Regions from separate parts of the Homo sapiens genome. Here region 2 is linked to region 1. The links come from fine-mapping of genetic effects on gene expression. A gene starts in region 1. The other region holds a variant in brackets. All regions are shown on one strand. Distances are from middle to middle. Region 1 holds the start of LPAR6 (lysophosphatidic acid receptor 6). Region 2 has its middle 6.9 kb from the start of CYSLTR2.

The links.
Region 2: its variant is fine-mapped to the expression of LPAR6 in whole blood (INTERVAL, PIP above 0.99).

The regions. Positions count from the first base shown.
Region 1 is chr13:48,407,570-48,417,632 of GRCh38, forward strand. It overlaps LPAR6 (lysophosphatidic acid receptor 6), which reads right to left and starts at 5,544. Exons shown (of 1, transcript NM_001162498.3): 1 at 3,569-5,544. The coding sequence starts at 4,854. The coding sequence ends at 3,820. The region is part of intron 17 of RB1 (RB transcriptional corepressor 1); the gene reads left to right. RefSeq lists an enhancer at 4,028-4,529.
Region 2 is chr13:48,642,026-48,652,088 of GRCh38, forward strand. No RefSeq gene overlaps it. Among named protein-coding and RNA genes, the nearest start is that of CYSLTR2, 6.9 kb to the right of the region's middle. The variant T/C (reference allele first, on the strand shown) is at 5,065.

The sequences.
Region 1 (10,063 bases):
GTACATGCTGATCTCTGGAAAATATTGCTAAATAAGTAATGCTGTTGATCATTAAGTACTCTGGTCGGTTTAGATATTAATGTGTGTTCTACATTCTTAAGTTTGTTCATTAGTCCTTTTTAATTTGTAATTTATTTCTTAGAAGCCATGTTATAAATGGGTAATTCAGTTTTCAGGAAAGCCCCAAAAAGCTTTTTAAAAAGTTTGTTTTTGGAGTCTTTAAGATTTCATCCCTGCCTAAGCACTGTTTATAAAATTGTTTCTACACAAAAATTTATTCACAACTAAGAACATTTGTGACATCCAGAGTTGGACTGGCATTTAGGCACGAAAAAAGTTTAGGTGCTGGAAGGTAGTGATGCTTCTTCTTGGAAATAGTAATTTAATATATTGACAAAGGACAAAATACTTGGTTCATCAGGTGTCCAAAATTGTAGGACCAAAAAGCAATTGCTTCAGATTCTTGATAACTATGTACCATTCATGAACCAAATGTTTCTCGGATGGGAATATGAAGTTTGCTCCATTTTCTATTTTATATTTCTCAATTTAGTGACTAATTTCTTTAAATACCAATATCTATAATTAAGATTTCTATTTCCAATTTACTTTTCAGCATTTTGAATGTAGAATATTAAGGTTCATTGATAGCTCCTTAAGTAGTGTCTTCAGTTTAATTTTCTGTGAATATAATATATATAATACATATATTTTTATGCTTTTTAAAATAAACTAGGTACTTGATATTTTCTCAGTAAAGATGATTTCTAAGTTCAGAAATTATTAGGATGCTGGAAAGCCATTTTTCCACACCTGAAAAATTTTCTCAGCTTACTGTGTTCCTTTGAAGGGAGTTAATGTGGGAAGGAAGATTAGTCAAATCATCTACCGTTTTATGAAAATGTTAATAACAGTGGGCACAGTTTTTATAGGGGGGCTTAGTGCTATCATTTTCAGGTAATCAAAAGTAAAATCATCAGAGTTCTAATATTAATATAGGTTTTTCTGAATAAAGGGGGAAGGGAAGAGAAAACCCTCAGAATATATGACTTACCACAAAGTACAACACTAGCAAAGGAAAATAAATTTTGTTCTGGTACACTTTTTTTCCATAGTTCTAGATGAGAAAACCATGTTTGTTATCTGTTATGTATTGCTTTATGAAGAATCTTACAAAACTTTTGATTCATTTATCTTCCTGTTGACAAGAGACACCAAAAAGTTTCTTTATGAACATAGTAATAACAACTATTTAATGACTGTTTTATTTGCATTTTAAAGTTATATTCATGTTTTATGATCTTGCCTTAAGTTGAGATCTTTAAGCTGAGGAGAGTTCTGAGAAATCTCAAAGTTATACAATTCTCCACCCCTTTCCCCCAGATCAGTAGATTGGTAGTTGCTTCTCAACTCAGTATGTTTAAGAAAGAGTGTATTTTTATTTACTGAAGTGTAATATCAAATAAAGGAATTTCAGGTCAATGGAAGAAAACACATTTATATTATGTATATATTTCTCTTGGGATATAAAGGACCATGGTTAGTATCTTCACTAGTTTTTTGGGTTTTTTTTCTTTTCTCTTTTTTTTTTTTTTTTGAGATAGGATCTTGCTCTGTTGTCCATGCTGGAGTACAGTGGTGTGATCATATCTCACTCTAACTTGGAACTCCTGGGCTGAAGGCATTAAAGATGTATTTTGCTTTAGGTTTATCTAAAGGAAACCATGGATCCCTAAAGAAAACCCCCCACTGTTATTTTATTGAAAATGGGTTTACCTGTCTAGCAAATGATTGTGATTTTTCTGAAATCATTACACCTCAAACCCAGAGAACAGCAAAAATCAAATTTATGTCTTAAAAGAGTTTTTTGTCCAAGTTGTATTGAGGACTTGAAAGATTAAGACAGTAGAAATCAGATAGGTTGGATGCTGAATTTAATTACATGTCCTTTTCCTTAAATAGAAGGCATTCTTTTTTAGTTAACTTTGGAGAACTGCTTGATTTTTTTTTTTTTTTTTTTTTTTTTTTTTGAGATGGAGTCTCGCTCTGTCGCCCGGCTGGAGTGCAGTGGCGAGATCTTGGCTCACTGCAACCTCTGACTCCTGGGTTCAAGCGATTCTCCTGCCTCTGCCTCCCGAGTAGCTGGGACTACAGGCATGTGCCACCACACCCAGCTAATTTTTGTATTTTTAGTAGAGACGGGGTTTCACCATGTTGGCCAGGAGGGTCTTGATCTCTTGACCTTATGATCCACCCGCCTCAGCCACCCAAAGTGCTAGGATTACAGGTGTGAACCACCGTGCCCGGCCTGAATTTTTTTAAAAAAGGAATATGTTGGATAATAAAAAAGTTTTAGTGTACTTGGTACTTTTTTTCTAAAGTATACCTCAGAGCCAGACCTATTTTATGTTTAGTGAAATGAAAATATAGTTTTGTTTAGTTATTTGGCCTTGTAGTTTTGTTACTTTATAATGTAAGGAACTGTGTCCTTAATTAATCATTTTGACGTACAATAACATCTTGCCTACTTGAAATAATGTTTTGAACTTCCCAATATTTGGCTTAAAATGGCCAGAAGAGTGAAGGAAAAGAAAATATTTACAGTCATGCATCACGTAATAGCATTTTGGTCAATGACCGCATAAACGATGGTGGTCTCATAAGATTATCATACTATATTTTTACTGTACCTTTTCTGTGTTGAGATGTATTTAGATACACAAGTACCATTATTTTACAGTTGCCTACAGTATTCTTTGCAGTAGCATGCTGTATAGGTTTGTAGCCTAGAAGCAGTAGGGTGTACCATATAAGCCTAGGTGTGTAATAGTGTATACCTTCTAGAGTTGTGTAAGTACACACTGTGATGTTTGCACGACATAATTACCTAAGCAAGCATCATAAGCAACACGTGACAGTATATTACTTTCTAAATGCCAAGTACTATATTTCACTATCTCTGATGTTTCTCCGACCTAACATACTTAAAACATAAGTTCTTGACTGTGATGTAAGTGCACCTTTAAAATGTACCTCTGGTAGTATTTTATTTTTTTGCTAAGTAAAAACTTAGCAAAATGACATTTTATTAGTTTTCTCCCTCTCAATTTTTGTGGCATATATCATTTTGAAATTGGGTGCATTATATACAGAAAATCAAAATAGTAACTTCAAAGCATACCATATAGATAGCATCTGCTTTCTACAAATTGCCTACACAGACCAAACTCCCAAAATGTTATCAATGTGTTACTGCTCAAGATCTTCCAACAATGTTAATATGTCATCATTTCTACAGAAGACTACGTTTTTAGTTATACATATATTTTAAAATACTCCCAAAACATTTATTTCAAATTACTCTTCTTTCTCATTTGTTAATCATAGTTTAAGAAATATGATTAGTAGTTTTAATTCAAAATAAAAATGGTATGTTGAATAAAATATTACATAAACATAAATTAGTATAAAATAATTTAGTAAATTAAATCATTTAATATAAAAAGGAATTCAAAGACATTACAGATTGGCACCACATAATTTAAGTCAGTCACTTTTAGACACTAAATAACTTTAAGAGATTTTTTTTAATGAAGGAACAAATCAAAATGGCTCAGAAAAATCAGATGGAGTGGATACACAAATAAAATACATGTTAATGCTTAACACATTGAATACAAATTTTCTTTATACTAAAGACTTTAAAATGTCCATGTGTTAATTTCTTTTGGAGGTGGAAAAATAGTTTGTCCAAAAAGACACTTTTCACAGTTGAAGGAACTTGAAAGTTCTGTCCCAGTGAGTCCTAATGGTTTTATTTCAGGCAGCAGATTCATTGTCAAATATCTTACTTTTTAAGGTCTGTAGGTTATGCTGAATAAAATTCTCTGCACCATGAACTTCAGAGAATCTGAAGTCACTTCTCCTGACAGACCAGTTTTTCATTTTTATTGAATTCTGAATTGTGTCCGATGTAAAGTAGTAAACTATAGGGTCAAAACAACAGTTGGAAACAGCAATACAGAGAGTGATTGGGTACATTGTCCTTACTGCTGCCACTACTGAGCAATTAACAAATGTTTGTGTTCTCACAAGAGAATATAAAATAAGATTGATATTGTAAGGAACAAAACAGAAACAGAATATGATCAAATGTACAAAAATCATTTTTAAAACCTTAGTTTTGTTTATTTTGCTTCTACTTAATGTAACAGGTTTGGTTAAAGTTTTTAGCACCATACTAGAACAAGTTACATTTAAAATTAGAGGAATAAAAAATCCCACTATTTCGATGAAAATTACAATCCTTGAGAGATATGTTTTCCATGTGGCTTCTGGAAAATTTTCAAAGCAGGCTTCTGAGGCATTGTTACCCTGAGAGTGGGTAGACTGAACAAAAACGGCGGGTGCACTTCCTCCGATCACAGTTAACCACACGCCAGTGCAAACAATCTTTGCATTTCTTTTGGTTCTTAGAGTCTTTGACTTAAATGGGTAGACAATTGCCAGAAATCGATCTACACTAATACAGGTTAAGAACAGAATGCTTCCGTACATGTTGGTATAAAACAGCATCACAGAAATCTTACAAAGTAAATCTCCAAATGGCCAATTCCGTGTTGTGAAGTAAAAAATCCTGAAGGGTAAAGTAAAAACAAAAAGCAAGTCTGACATTGCCAAGTTAATCATGTAAGTTGTAGTTTCATTTCGGACTTTGAGGACGCAGATGAAAATGTATATGGCAACACAATTGGATATTAACCCAAGCACAAACACCATGCTGAACATGCACCCATACAAAGTGTACTTAAAGGAGTCATTATAGAAGCAGTGGGAGCTGTTAACGCTTACCATCGTAAAGGCACGTCCAATTTTCAGTTTGGAAGCACTTTCATCAGCTGCAGTCTCCTTTGGGATTCAGATTATAACCTCTATAACCTCCAATTTATTTGCAAATTATCTGGATCTTTGGATGGTTTTATAAATATTTCCTTTTTCTCAGAAATACCCAAAAGAAACATGAAATTTGTTGCTGTAAAATTTCCGCTGGGTTCTTCAACAGGAAAATATTTTCATTTGTTAGTCTTTAGAAAATCCATGAATTCCAAGGCTCAGTTAACTGACGAGCAACCTTTAAAAAATACAGTCAACGAGTCCAACCCATAGGATTATAAATTTAAAGAAAAGCTGTGATCTGTGACCAGAATGAAACCACTTGTCTTCTAAACTTGTATTTCAGTAGTCAAGATGAATACTCCAAAGTTAATGTTTCTTTATGCCTCAGAATGTTAAGCTTAAGTTATCAATCTTATTTTCTTTTCAGTGCAGAGTTTCAGAGACTTAAACATTCCCAATTTGTCCCATTTTACTTCTTGCTTCTTTTAAATGAAGTTTTCCTTTTTTGTTTTCCTGCAGTGGATCCCAGATTGTGGGTAAGCAGAAGAGTCTTTTAAAGATTCCGAAATAAACTCCCAAGCTTGTTAGCTCTTGTTGAATTGAGGCCTTTTCCTCAGTTGCCAGTTGTATCTTGAGGTCGCTTTCTCTGAAGTGAAAAAGAAAGGCTTCCTAGATTTGTAATATGACATCACAGGAAGAAGAGGCTGGGTTTGGACAAAGAAACTTTCAGCCCAGTTTGTTTGCACTTCCTTTAATCTGATAATGTGTCTGCTGGGAATATACCTAGGAGGCTTGCAAATGGTCACTGGCTGTTGAACTGCGTGGTCTGCTCATTAACTCTTTTTATGTGGAAATGCCTTCTGCGGTGCTGGCAACCTCTCAGAGTTGTTTTGATTTGTTTCAGTAGTAATAATTGAAAGAAAAAAATCACTATTCAGCCTGTTCTCTTATTCGATTGTTTTCGTGTTTGGGATATGACAATTTAGAAAAGAAAATGTGTATGGGTGTGTATTTATAAATTGAAATTGTTAGTGATATCTTAACATAGCATTTCAAAGAACTGTTTAATGACTATGAAACAGGGGCCTTTAACCTTTAAGGTATAACAAGCATTTGACTCTTGGTTTCTGAAAAATACTCAATATTTAATTGTTATCATTATGAGTAGCTCTTATCCTGGGTCTCATTAGTTTTTGATAAGCAATTTTCTAACATTCTTTCCTCTTTCCTATGCAGTTGTATTAATATTTTAGAGCTGTTTAAATTTTTAAATTACTCATTTCTCCAAAAGAACAAACTCAAGAATGTTTATCTTTGGTGTGGTGTTAATTTTACTTTCTAAGCACAAAATGAAATTGCATCTTTTTAAGCAAAATTTTTTTAACCTTAAATTGATTGAAATAAGGTTTAGAGAATAAAAATCCTACTACTTGGCAAAATTTTAGGTTCATAGTCTTATCTTCCTTCTTCCTCCCAGCTCTTCCCTTAACCCCTTAATATGACATTAACTATATATTGAAATATATTTCAGATTTTGTCTCCATCTAAAAGTTTCTATGAATGGTTTATATGTTTATATTTAAAGTATACTCATATTTTGGGCCAGGTGCAGTGGCTCACGCCTATAATCCCAGCACTTTGGAAGGCCGAGGCAGGTGGATCACCTGAGATCAGGAGTTTGAGAGCAGCCTGGCCAAAATGGCGAAACCCCATCTCTACCAAAAATACAAAACTAGCCTAGGGCAATAGTGCGTGCCTGTAGTCCCAGCTACCCAGGAGACTGAGGCAGGAGAATCGCTTGAACCTGGGAGGCAGATGTTGCAGTGAACCAAGATCAAGCCACTGCACTCCAGCCTGGGCGACAGCGAGACTATCTCAAAAAAAAAAAAAAAAAGTATACTTATATTTTAAAGACTCCAAAATCAGAAGAAGAAAGTGTGTGTAAGGTGAGGGTACTTAAATGTAGGTGTTATTTCCTCAAAGATTGAGGATATCACAACCTCTATGGCACATGTTTTTCTTGTTTTAAATATCATTTTCTTCAGAAAAGGCTAGATCTAGTTATGCCTTACTGTTATTATTTTTTTAATTTGGTCTAGTTTAAGCTGAAACTCTTCCTCTTGGGTATTAAGTAATTTAAGAACAATTTATTTTTTTCTCATAAATTACTTAGCTAGCTTAAAAATAACTTATTACAGTAAAATGTTTTGTGTTGTTTTGCACCATTCTTTCACACTCAGCAATTTTTGTCATTTGTTGATGAACTATAATCTATTTCTACTGTCTGGACTAGAAAATTCATCTATTATCAAATGACAAAAAAAGATGAGTATTACTTATAACCAATACTTAAAATTTTGAAGGGTTGAATATCTTTTATATCACATTTGGTATAGAAAAGATGTATGTGTGTGTTCTTATTAGAAGGCTGGTAGAAGCTGAGTGAGCATTAATGAAAAAAGGAGTGGTTAATAAGCTTGTATTCTCATTGGAAAAAATTTTCTGTTAGTAGTTATGTCTTACTGTTATTTTTTTTTTATTTGGTTCAGTATGTTTTAAAAAAACAAAATCTTAGTAATCTTCTTTCAAATTGATAGTCTCCTCTTTAGTCATCTTTAATTAATGAAATATATGCAGTTGTATATGCTGATCTCATCCTACTTTTACTTTCATTTTGAATATGGCGGCATTTTCTCATTCAAATAATTAAAATTTATTAATTCTACTTGGAATATTTTTCTACATATTGTCATTACTCACTTGACTTGTTATTCACTTAAGTCATTCATCTATAGTTTTTTCTTTTCTTTTCTTTTTCTTTTTCTTTCTTTCTTTTTTTTTTCTCACTCTGCCGCCCAGGCTGGAGTGCAGTGGTGCGATCTTGTCTTACTGCAACCTCTGCCTCCCAGGTTCCAGCAATTTTCCCACCTCAGCCTCCCGAGTAGCTGGGATTATGGGCACCCGCCACCACACCCAGCTAATTTTTGTATTTTTAGTAGAGATAGGGTTTTACCATGTGGCCAGGCTGGTCTTGAACTCCTGACCTCAAGTCATCCACCCACTTCAGCCTCCCCAAGTGCTGGGATTCCATGTGTGAGCCACCGTGCCCGGCCTGTTCATTTATAGTTTTTTAATGTTTGAGTTACTGGGGCTTAAAAATGGATAGATCACTATTTGTTGAATTAGGCTTTTCATTATTATCAGTATCATAGTAAATGTTTGTATAATTCTTACCACAATTCTTGGTTCTTTGTAGATGATTCTCACATGTTTGCTGATGAATGAATCATAAACTTGAATTTTGTTGCCAGTTGTTTCTACTGAGGAAGAGCCATAGCAGAGGGACTGTTTGAACAGGAAGAAGATAATTGAATACTGCATTTTTTCCAGATATTAAATTTGGCCTCTAATTAAGGAACCAAAGGGGAATTTAGAAACTTTGAAAAATTCTTAGGTTAGAATTGGAAAAATACAGAGTAACTACTTGCAAAGGGAGGTAATGAATCCATATAATCAATTATATTTAATAGATACTTTTGTATTTGATAAACTCAGGCAAACTGTTATTTTAATGTGAGATCTCTACACTTCTGGAACTTAACTCTGAGAATCAACTTATTTCTTATATGGATTTTTTGGGGGGAGCGAAAATTAAACAGAGCCAGATAGATGTTAAAATGGTGAACACAGGAACAGCTGGAGTCTGCAGCTCCCAGCGAAATCAACGCAGAAGGTGGGTGATTTCTCTATTTCCAACTGAGGTACCCAGCTCATCTCATTGAGACTGGTCAGACAGGGGGTGCAGCCCATGGAAGGCGAGCCAAAGCAGGGTGGGGCATCGCCTTACACGGGAAGTGCAAGGGGCCAGGGAACTTCCTCCCCTAGCTAAGGGAAGCCATGAGGGAATGTGCCACGAGGAACGATGCATTCCGGCCCAGACTCTATGCCTTTTCCGTGATCTTCACAACCCTTAGACCAGGCAATTCCCTCGGGTGCCTACACCACCCAGGCCCTGGGTTTCAAGCACAAAACTGGGCAGCCGTTTGGGCAGACACCGAGCTAGCTGCAGGATTTTTTCTTTTTCGTACTCCAGTGGCACCTGAAACACCAGTGAGACAGAACTGTTAACTCCCCTGGAACAGGGGCTGAAGCCAGGGAGCCAAGTGGTCTAGCTCAGTGGATCCCACCCCCACAGAGCCCAGCAAGCTAAGATCCACTGGCTTGAAACTCTTACTGCCAGCACAGGAGTCTGAAGTCGACCTGGGATGCTGGAGCTTGGTGGGAGGAGGGGCTTCTGCCATTACTGAGGCTTGAGTAGGTGGTTTTCACCTCACAGTGTAAGCAAAGCCACCGGGAAGTTTGAACTGGGTGGAGCCCACTGTAGCCCAACTGCTTCTCTAGAGTCCTCCTCTCTGGGCAGGGCATCTCTGAAAAAAAGGCAGCAGCCCCAGTCAGGGGCTTATAGATAAAACTGCCATCTCCCTGGGACAGAGCACCTGGGGGAAGGGTGCTATGGGTGGCTATTGGTGCAGCTTCAGCAGACTTAAACGTTCCTGCCTGCTGGCTCTGAAGAGAGCAGCAGATCTCCCAGGACATTGCTCGAGCTCTGCTAAGGGACAGACTGCCTCCTCAAGTGGGTCTCTGACCCCCATGTCTCCTGACTGGGAAACACCTCCCAGCAGGAATCGACAGACAACTCACACAGGAGAGCTCCAGCTGCCGTCTGGTGGGTGCCCCTCTGGGACAAAGCTTCCAGAGGAAGGAACAGGCAGCAATCTTTGTTGTTCTGCAACCTCTGCTGGTGATATCCAGACAAACAGGGTCTGGAGTGGACCTCCAGCAAATTCCAGCAGACCTGCAGCAGAGGGGCCTGACTGTTAGAAGGAGAACTAACAAACAGAAATGAATAGCATCAATATCAACAAAAAGGACTTCCACACAGAAACCCCATTTGAAGGTCACCAACATCGAAGACCAAAGGTAGATAAATCCATGAAGATGAGGAAAAACCAGCGCAAAAAGGCTGACAATTCCAAAAACCAGAATGCCTTTTCTCTTCCAAAGAATCACAACTCCTCGCCAGCAAGGGAACAAAACTGGACAGAGAATAATAAACTCCTCCAAGCCAAAGGACCATGTTCTAACCCAATGCAAGGAAGCTAAAAAC
Region 2 (10,063 bases), 230 kb after region 1:
GGACTCTCAGGAAGGCCTGTTTTAATATAATGTGGAACTGAGACTGAGGAAGCCACAAATTAGAAACTTGCAAAGTGAGAGAGTTGGATATTTAGTTGGTAATTATCCTTTGTGCCCCTCTCCCTGCCAAAGTTTTCCTGAAATGTTTCCCAAACCATACAGTATTAGTCAGCGTTTTCTGGAGAAACCAAACCAAAAGGACACACGCGCACGCATACACACACACGCACACACACACATGCACATGGGGCCTGATCTGTTTAATTTAATAAATTGCTCATGTGGTGGGTGCTGGCAAGTTAAAAAACCATAGGGCAGGCTGGTAAGCTGGAAATCCCAGGAAGAGTTTGTGAAAGGAAATTAAATTTGGGGACCGCAAACTCATTTAGCCAAAGGGAAAAGTCAAGCTGGGAACTGGGTCATGCAAACCTGCCTCCACCTATTGGATACCAAATAAGATGTCTACAAGATGAAGAGCTACCCGCCTGCCCCATATTTTACCCACAAGGAAATTGCTAGTGAGCTGTTAAAACTTCACCATGGCAATGCAAATTGATAGCTTACAGGTGTAGTCACCCAGCCTGCCAGACACAGATACATATCTGATTGCTCCCCTACCCCATTTTGTCTGTGTTATCTTATGTAAAATGCAGATTTCCCCCCATTTTTCCTCTGCCCCTTTTGTTTATGTGAAAACTGTGTGCTTCTCAATATCCCCACCCTTTGCCATTTCCCCTTTAAATTTGGAGCCCTCAAAATCATCTTCAGAGAAAGGCATAGACCTGTCTCCCAGGCAATGTCCTTAACTTTGGCAAATAAATCTCCAAAAATGATTGAGACTTGTCTCATCATTTTCTTCGATTGACAAGTTGATGTTGTAGTCTTGAGTCCAAATTTTGCAGGCAACAGATTTGAAACTCAGGAAGGGTTTCCATGTTGAAGTCTTGAGAATTTTTTCTACTTTTGGGGAACCTCAGTCTTTGCTCTTAATCAAGGATTACGAAGTCTAATCTGCTTTACTCAATGTTCTTAAATATTAATCTCATCTTAAAAATACCTTCATAGCAACATCTACACTGGTGATTGACCAAACAGTTGGGCCTAGACAAAGTGACACATACAATTAACCATCACACCTGCCTATAAGATAATCAACATTATAGGAGTCTAAACTCATCAGCTTCCTCTGTGAAATTTTCATCTATCTAGAGTCCAAATTTTGTGTTCATGCCTTTTCTGAAGTACTAGACTTTAGGCTCCTTTCTGGTAGGCTCCATTTCTTTAAAGCAGTTTACATTGCCTTTATATCCATTGCAGTGCCTTACACCAGTCCCCAGGTGCCAGTAAGTGACAAGGGGATGAGGATAAAAATAAGAGCACAGGCTCCGGAGTCAGATATTCTTGAAATCAAAGTAATTTTAAGCAGTTTATTAAGTGTTCCAACTCTGTGTCCTCAAATATAAAATGAGAACAATCATATATATATTTTTTTAGGATTATAGATTTGTTGGAAGGAGAGGCTCTATTTATAATTCATTTTTTATCCTCCCCCAAAACAGCAGAATTTGCTGTGTGTTAGCAGGTTCTGTGCTAAGCACTTCATGCGCAGGAACTCACTCAGCCTTCAGAACAACCCCGCTGTGCACTCCACCACCATTTCATGGGGAGCAAAGGGGCTCAGAGCGTCTCTTAGTCCACTTGGGCTGCTGTAACAAAATACCATAGACTGGGTGGAACAGAAACAACAGAAATTTATTTCTCACAAATGTAGAGGCTAGAAGTCTGAAATCCTATGGGAGTTCTCTGGGGTCATTTTTATTAGAGCACTAATCCCATTCACGAGTGCTCTGCTCTCATAACCTGACCACCTCCCAAAGCCCCACCTCCTAATACTATCACCTTGTGGGTGAGGATTTCAACAGATGAATTATTGGGGGACACAAACATTCAGTGTACAGCAGAGAGGGTAAGTCATGTACCTGTGGACACAGAGCTGGAAATGATGACATAAATTAGAGCTCAGATTGGCCTGTGGCTCATGCCCATGTGGCCCTCTGCAGAATGCCTTGGCATTTTTTCCGTGGTTCCCTCTGCCACAAAGGCCCTCCCTTCACCTGGGGCACCTGCTTCTCTTCCAGAGTCAGTTCCTGCCCCACTGCCCCACAGAAGTGTTTTCTGATGTGCTCTTCCTTGGGAAGACCTGACCAGGGCAAGGCAAGACAGCGGTGCTAGTTGTGCTCTGGACCGAGAAAGGGGTAGGATGGAAATTCAGCTACTGTTCCTGGCAACTGGTGAGTCTTTGCCCCAGGCTATGGCTAACAATGAAAGGAAAACCTTATGGTAATCCTAACACCCAGAAGGGTCAGCCTTCACACAGAGACACTTGTAGGCAGTAGCTGGGCCCTGGGACTGGCCATTCCCTCCTCCACGCCCTGCAAGCACAAGTGCTCAGGAACGTTCACCTCCTGCCTCTCTCTACCACTAGTGATCCTCTGAAGTGCAGGAGCCACGTCTTAGGTGTTGTTGCTTACTTCTTGTCCAGGACAGGGACTGGCACACTTCTGCTTAGTGTTTGTTAGCAAATGGATAGAGGGAAGACTGAAGGAAAGAGGAAAATCAGGTGTATTTCTTAAAGTTGGCAAGGTGATTCAATTCCTTTCTTCACACAACAAATATTTATTGAGCACTTGCTATGTGGCAGTCACAGTTTAGACAATGGGGTTACTGATACTTAAGGTGTTCTGGTTCTGGCACACGAGAAGCTGATTTATTATTTTCCTACCATGTCATACATAGAGGAAAGCAACAGTCTTGTATCAAGCTGGTTCTTTAAAATACCCTACTAGGTTTCCTGAGGTTTCATGCTTCTAGGCCCCTGATTACTTAACACATTCAAAACAGAAGAATCTTTTTATGTGCACCAGGAGAAGAAATGGAAAAACACTGACATCCCTGGAAAGTGGGAAATCCAAATTTCAGAATTTCTTCTCCACTGCCACATGTTTCCCATTTGTTTGTTTTTCCAAAACACCCATTGCACCTCACCAGCATGGAGCTCAGGCTGGCCTCCAGGCAGGGCTCTTTTCCACAGCATCTGCCCCTCCCCACCAGAGCAGAAGGCAATGCTAACTGCACCTGGGACCATCATCCAGAGGAGCATCTCTGAGAAGCAAAGTGAATTGTCTGGTCTGAGCAGTTCCTAAGTGGATTAATGACTAATAACCCTTGGTTCCTAATGACCTGGATGAAATAATACAATTTCCTGGGCTCTGTGGAATTCTGGAGTCTCCAGCTATTAAAACCACTACAAAGCACTCTTAGATACTAAATGCATGGTACATTTCACGATGTTGTTTTCTCGGTTCATGAGCTTGTGCATATTTGATTGCACATGCTCACTTTAAGAGGCACTTACCGCCCCTATCTTCAGCTCTGTTAAATGGAGAAAAGCCAGATAAACTAAGGCATTAGTGGCGCCAAATTAACGTGAGCATCACGTAAATGCTCATCAATGCCAAGAGGAGCCCATAGTTTCTGCTAGTAAGTAGAAAGTCCCTAATATGAGGAAGATATATTTATAATGTCAAAGGGATCTATTGTTAGTATCCCTAGTATTGGCTAATGGTAGAAAGGGCGCATAGTTATTTAGCATCTTGGAAATGCAAGTTTCTCATCATTTAGGTATTTTCAAAATGGGACAATAACAAATGCAAAGGGTCATTGCAATGGCTACATGAGATCTGTGTGAGATGCCTAGCACAGAACTGGCACCTGGATGAATCCCAGGACCTGGCTGTTGGAGTATTTGGACATAGTGAACATGTGCTCCTCATAGAGCTAGAAGCTCACTAGAGTAACCCACCCTTCAGGTCACAGGGACCTGGGAATTCATTCTGAATATTTAAAGCAGGGAAGGTTTACTCAGGTGATGGAAGGGCTGAGAGACAAGCAGGGAACTGAGATAACACAGAGTTTAACACAGCAAGAAGCCATCACCATGCCTGGGCTGCAGAGATACAGGGAGGAGACAGGTTTCCCCAAGCCTGGGAGTCACACAACAGAAGCTGGGGCCCCACAGAACACACAGTTGCCATCAGAAATGCCACCTGCAGAACAGATGGGGAGTGATATCGTTAGGCTTTTTGTCCGCACTCAAATCTCATCTTGAATTATAATCATCATAATCCCCACGTCAAGGGAGAGACCAGGTGGAGGTAATTGAATCATGGGGATGGTTCCCCCATGCTGTTCTCATGATAATGAGTGAGTTTTCATGAGATCTGATGGTTTTATAAGGGGCTCTTTCCCTCACTTCTCTCTCCTGCAGCCTTGTGAAGAAGGTGTCTGCTTACCCTTCGCCTTCCACCATGATTGTAAGTTTCCTGAAACTTCCCCAATCATACGGAACTATAAGTTAGTTAAGCCTCTTTCCTTTATAAATTACCCAGTCTCAGGAAGTTCTTTATAGCAGTGTGAGAATGGACTAATACAGGGAGAAATGCTCTGGCTTTTTTCTCCTTTTTTTCCACCTTCCCACCTCCCACCAGTGCCAAATCCAGCCAGAAGCTGGGCTGATATGGGAGTCTGAGCTTTAGGGGTGAGCCCTCACCGCACCCTATAGAGAGTAGAGCAGGGTAGAGGTGAGGAAGGGAACTGAGCCCACCCAGTGGGCCCGCAAGCCTGGGCAGTAAAGGTACCAAATGAAATTATCTGGCTTGGAGGTCTTCATTTGGGGTGACATTTTGTTTCCAACCTATCTCCTCTCCTGCTGTCCTTGACCCCAACCTTCCTCATGCCTATTTTCCAAATTCTCTTGAGTCTTCTGCTCCAGCTGGGTCATCTCCTATCCACAGGTGGGAAAGGAGGAAAGACACCAGCCCCACTGCAGCTACCACCCGCACTGCTAGATGTCCGAGCATGTGCCTGCACTGAGCCACGCCTAGAGGGCAGCCAGGTGATGATGCTGCTCCTGCCTTGCATGTGCTCTGCCCAGTGCTCAGCAGACCTCCCTGGTAGGTGCTGTAGCTGTGCCACAGTGCTCTGGCCCTGAGCCTGGCCACCACA[T/C]GTGTTATCAGGGAGGACCCTCCCCTTGAGTCACCTACATTAGTGCTTAAAGCTCTAGCTTCAAACTCAGTCTCAACCCAGGGTAGGTGGAAAATAGAACTTTCTTTAGTATTTTTATAGCTCAGTTGCCATTTTTTTCAAGAAGTCCTTCTTCCCTGACCTGCCATGTGAAACTTACTGTTTGCAAACTCCCTCTTACATTCTATTAGTGAAACTAACCTAGATCCTAGATTAGGGAAAAGCTGCATGCATAAGGGGAAAAAATAACAAGAAGTGTAGTTTATTCTCCCCACTACGGCGCATCCTGTTGATGGAATATAGGAATATAATTCAATAATTAAAACATTCATGCCGATGTGGTAAAACGTTGTGTTGCAGTGTAAATGGGAAAAATGCAGGATGCAAATTTTTGTCAAATGAAGCAACAAATGAGCAAGCAACAGCTTAGAAAACTGTCTGGCAGAGAATGCACCAAAAATTTGTCTTTTGGGAGATGGTACTATGAATGATTTTCATGTGAAGAAATTAAGTTTACTCCAGAGATCCCTTGAGTTCTAGAACTGGTCTTATTTATCTTTGTATCTTTCTTCCTTCCTCATCCCCAGAGCCTTGTATACACTCAATATGCAAGAAGCCCTGGAAGTTCCCAAGGTGTGTTTCCAAGACCCTACACCAGCCTGGCTGAAACAGGACCAGATCATCTCTCAAATCTCCATCTCATGGTCTTGGTGGCCACCTGCTGCCTGAAGCTAGGGCTACAGAGGCGGGAGTGAAGAAGGACTCACCTGCCCAGACTGAAGCCACAGAATCCAGGGAGCCAGCCTCAAGGTCCAGTCAAGCAGTGCTCAGACTTACTGCTAGGATTTAGAAGAAAACAAAAGGGGATGATGAGGAATTGCAGATTTGAAACTAAGCTGGCGGGTTTAGGGTCTCTTCTGTACCATGGGTTTTGTGGAGGCTCTAATTCTGTGGTCTTTTTCCAGAATGCTATGTTCTTAGTCACTAATTTGCCTTATGTGACTTGACTAATTAGTACCCTCAGGATGGGAAAGGCCTTACATGAGCAGCAGGAAATTTTTGGGGTCTGAGAAAAGGTGGCTGAAAGAAAGGGAAGGATCTGATAGGGGAGTGAAGAGTGTTAACGTAACTTTGGCTCCCTTCTCCATGTTTATGCTGTCAGCAGAAAAACCAAACTCTGCACAACATTTCAAAGAGGTTTATTCTAGGCCAATATGAGTGACCACGGCCCAGGGAAAACACAAACCCAAGAGGCCATGAGAAAGGAGTCCCAAGGCAGTCGGACTGTAACTCTGTTTTAAGCATTTCAGGGCAGCAGAAACTACAGGCAAAGTTGTAAATTGATACATGGAGGTTTATACATTGGTTCAGCCCCAAGAGGTGGGATATCATGAATTGGGGGACTTACAGGTCATAGGTGGGATCAAAGATTCTTTAATTTGTAATTGGTTAAAGGAACAAAGCTCTGTGTAAAGTCAGCTTAAAGAAATGTTTACATGAAAGGAAGGAAGTTTGCTAGTCATCATGTGATGCTATGCCAGAGTCGGGTTATGAGAGCAAGATACAATATATTGGGTCAAAATGACATGTTTAGCCAGATTGATGGTCTGTAGGTATGACTCTCTCCAGGCCTTTTTGGAGAGAATTTTTAGCAAAGAGAAAGAGGTCAGAGTTCAGTCCTCAATGATCTCCACAAAGACTGCTCTGCCTGAAACTTGTGATATAAATCATGCCGTGGGACATGGGCCTGCTCCTCTCCAAGGGCCGTTGGCTGGGCCTCTTAGGGTTCAAACCAGAATCTCCTGATTCTCACTCTCATACGATATTATGCAAAGAAAAACTCCCTTTTGGAAAAACCCCCTTCTGGAATCCTTAATTTGGCAATCTTCCAATTTGCTCAACATACTAAAAAAAAATTAAAGAGGTAAGTGTGTATGTATGTGTATGTGGGGGGACGCCAGGGATGAGTGGGGAGAGGGTGTCATGTGGCCCACGCACTGCACAGTTCTCCGGCTACTTTCTCTCCCAACTCTGATTGGACTGGAGCGGACATTAATGCTCACTCCAGCCTCATCACCTCTCCAGAGAGCTGACACTGCTTGGGAAGCTAAATTGTTCTTTTTGAAGGGAGAATTACATATGAGAGACTGAAAATCGAAACAAACTAAAAAGGATGCAAGCTCACTATGAATTAGTTAAGTCTATTGCGTTATCTTATGGCAAGTTTATAACTTTCTCCCTGAATTTTGGGTTCCCTTGGTTGGAGAAGGGAAATGTAGATGTGTTCCCTAGGACTACCATAACAAAGTACTGCAAACTTGATGGCTTAAATTAAAGCAACAGAAATTCATTCTCTCACAGTTCTGGAGGGCAGAAGTCAGAAATCAAGATGCCAGCAGGGCTGCACTCCCTCTTCTGAAGGCTCTAGGGGGAGTCTTTCATTGATTTACCAGTTCTAGTGGCTCCAGGTGTTCCTTGGCTTATAGCTGCATCACTTTAATCATTTTACATGGCCTTCTCCCCTGTGTGAGCTTGTTGACACTCCTTTGTCGTCTCTCTTACAAGGATACATGTAATTGTATTTTGGGCTCACCTGGATAATGAAAAATAAACTCGTTGCCTCAAGATCCTTAATTAACCACCATTTGTGCCACATAAGGTCACATTTACAGAATCCAGGATTTGAATATGGGCATGTCTTTGGTGCCAATGTGTAGCCCACTACACTACGTAATTCTTTTCTCTGTCTTATCACAGAACAGGCTCTCTTACACATAAAGTTGGTTGCTTTCTAAATTCCATGAGGTTTCAAGTTTGTTTCCATTGTTCCCCTTTCTTTCTTTTTTTTTTTTTTGAGATGGAGTTTCGCTCTTGTTGCCCAGGCTGAGGAGCTCAACGGTATAATCTCAGCTCGCCGCAACTTTCACCTCCCAGGTTCAAACGATTCTCCTGCCTCAGCATCCCAAGTAGCTGGGATTACAGGCACCTGCCACCATGCCCAGCTAATTTTTGTATTTTTAGTAGAGATAGGGTTTCACCATGTTGGCCAGGCTGGTCTTGAACTCCTGACCTCGTCATCTGCCCACTTCGGCCTCCCAAAGTGCTGGGATTACAGGCGTGAGCCACTGCGCCCAGCCTGTTCTTCCACTTTCTTAATGACCTAAATAGAAACATGATTCACGCTGACTTCTTCCTTTGTATTTAACCTTGCACTATGAAAACAAACTACTGTCTCTGATGCCTTAGTAACTTAATAGTGCTTCTGATCTTTTGAAAATCACAGGTTTGTGCTTATAGGAATATATCCTCTAGACTCAAGCTTATGTCTCTAAAAGTCTAACTAAAGGCCTTGTGGCTGGTACATTACTGTAATCAGCAAGAAACTGGCCCTGATTCTCTTAAACTCACTTTGTTCAACTGAGAACAAACTTGGAAGTCTCCTACAAAACTGGAGTTGATTCTCATCTCTTGATTACTTCTGCAGGCCTTTGAAAGTTCCGGAGAAGTTCTCTGTGTGCCATATACATTAAACACGCTTCCATGTTTTCCTTTAAATCATCAAGAGCAGCACATAGGATAATGTGTTTATTCCTTTCTCTGCTCCCTAGGATTATCTTCTTTTTAAAGTCATCGACCCTTTCCCTATCTACTCTAAATGAATGATTTCTTGCTCCATCCTGACAAATCCGGTTAAAATGACATTGCATCTCTTTATATCATCTGTCCAAATTGTACAAAGAAAGAGTGTCTAATGGGCACTCTCCAGCAAATTTACTGCCTATGGAGTGCTTAGAGATCCCAGGCTGTCCTAAAAATAAAAGAAAGTCTTGAATAGGTTTCTCCTTTCTCTGAGGTTTACAGATTCAGAAGCAGGGAGTAGGGAGAAAGCATTTCCCTCATTATCTTTCTAATACTCTTGAAACATATTCTGCTCCTTGAAAACCTAATATTCAAAAGTTAGCTCTCGGAGTGTAGGATCGATTTTTTTTCACTGTTTATTTTATTTTAAAGTTTTTAATTTTTTTTATTTTTATTTTTATTTTTTATTTTTTGGAGACAGAGTCTCACTCTGTCACCCAGGCTGGAGTGCAGTGGCACGATCTCAGTTCACTGCAACCTGCGCCTCCCGGGTTCAAGCAATTCCCTGCCTTAGCCTCCCAAGTAGCTGGGATTACAGGTGCCTGTCACCACGCCAGGCTAATTTTTGTGTTTTTAGTAGAGACGGGGTTTCACCATCTTGGCCAGGCTGGTCTCGAACTCCTGACCTCGTGATCCACCCGCCTCAGCCCACCAAAGTGCTGGGATTAGGCATGAGCCTTTTTTTTTTTTTTCTGAGGCAGTCTTGCTCTGTCACCCAGGCTGGAGTGCAGTGGTGTGATCCCAGCTCACTGCAGCCACAACATCCCCAGCTCAAGCAATCCTTCCACTTTAGCTTCCTGAGTAGCTGAGACTATAGGCACATGCCACCATGTCCAGCTAATTTTTGTATTTTTTTTTTTAGAGATGGGGTCTCCCTGTGTCACTCAGACTGCTTTCAGTCTGTTCTGGACTCGAGATCTTCCTGCCTCAGCCTCCCAAAGTGCTAGGGTTATAGGGGTGAGCCACTCCATCCAGCCCACTTTATTCATTTTAATGAGATGAACATTAGTCAATTAATTGGGCTTTTTGGCTCACTGCAACCTCCACCTTCCGGGTTCAAATGATTTTCCTGCCTCAGCCTCCCAAGTAGCTGGGACTACTGGCGCGTGCCACCATGCCTGGCTAATTTTTGTATTTTTAGTAGAGACAGGGTTTCACCATATTGGCTAGGCTGGTCTCCAACTCCCGACCTCGTGATCTGCCCACTTTGGCCTCCCAAAGTGCTGGGATTACAGGCGTGAGGTCACTGCGCCTGGCCAATTGGGCTTTTATTGGAGAAGAATGAATATCTATAGTGACTGCTTGTAGAATGAAATGTTGTTTCAAGCTTTTTGCCCCCTAA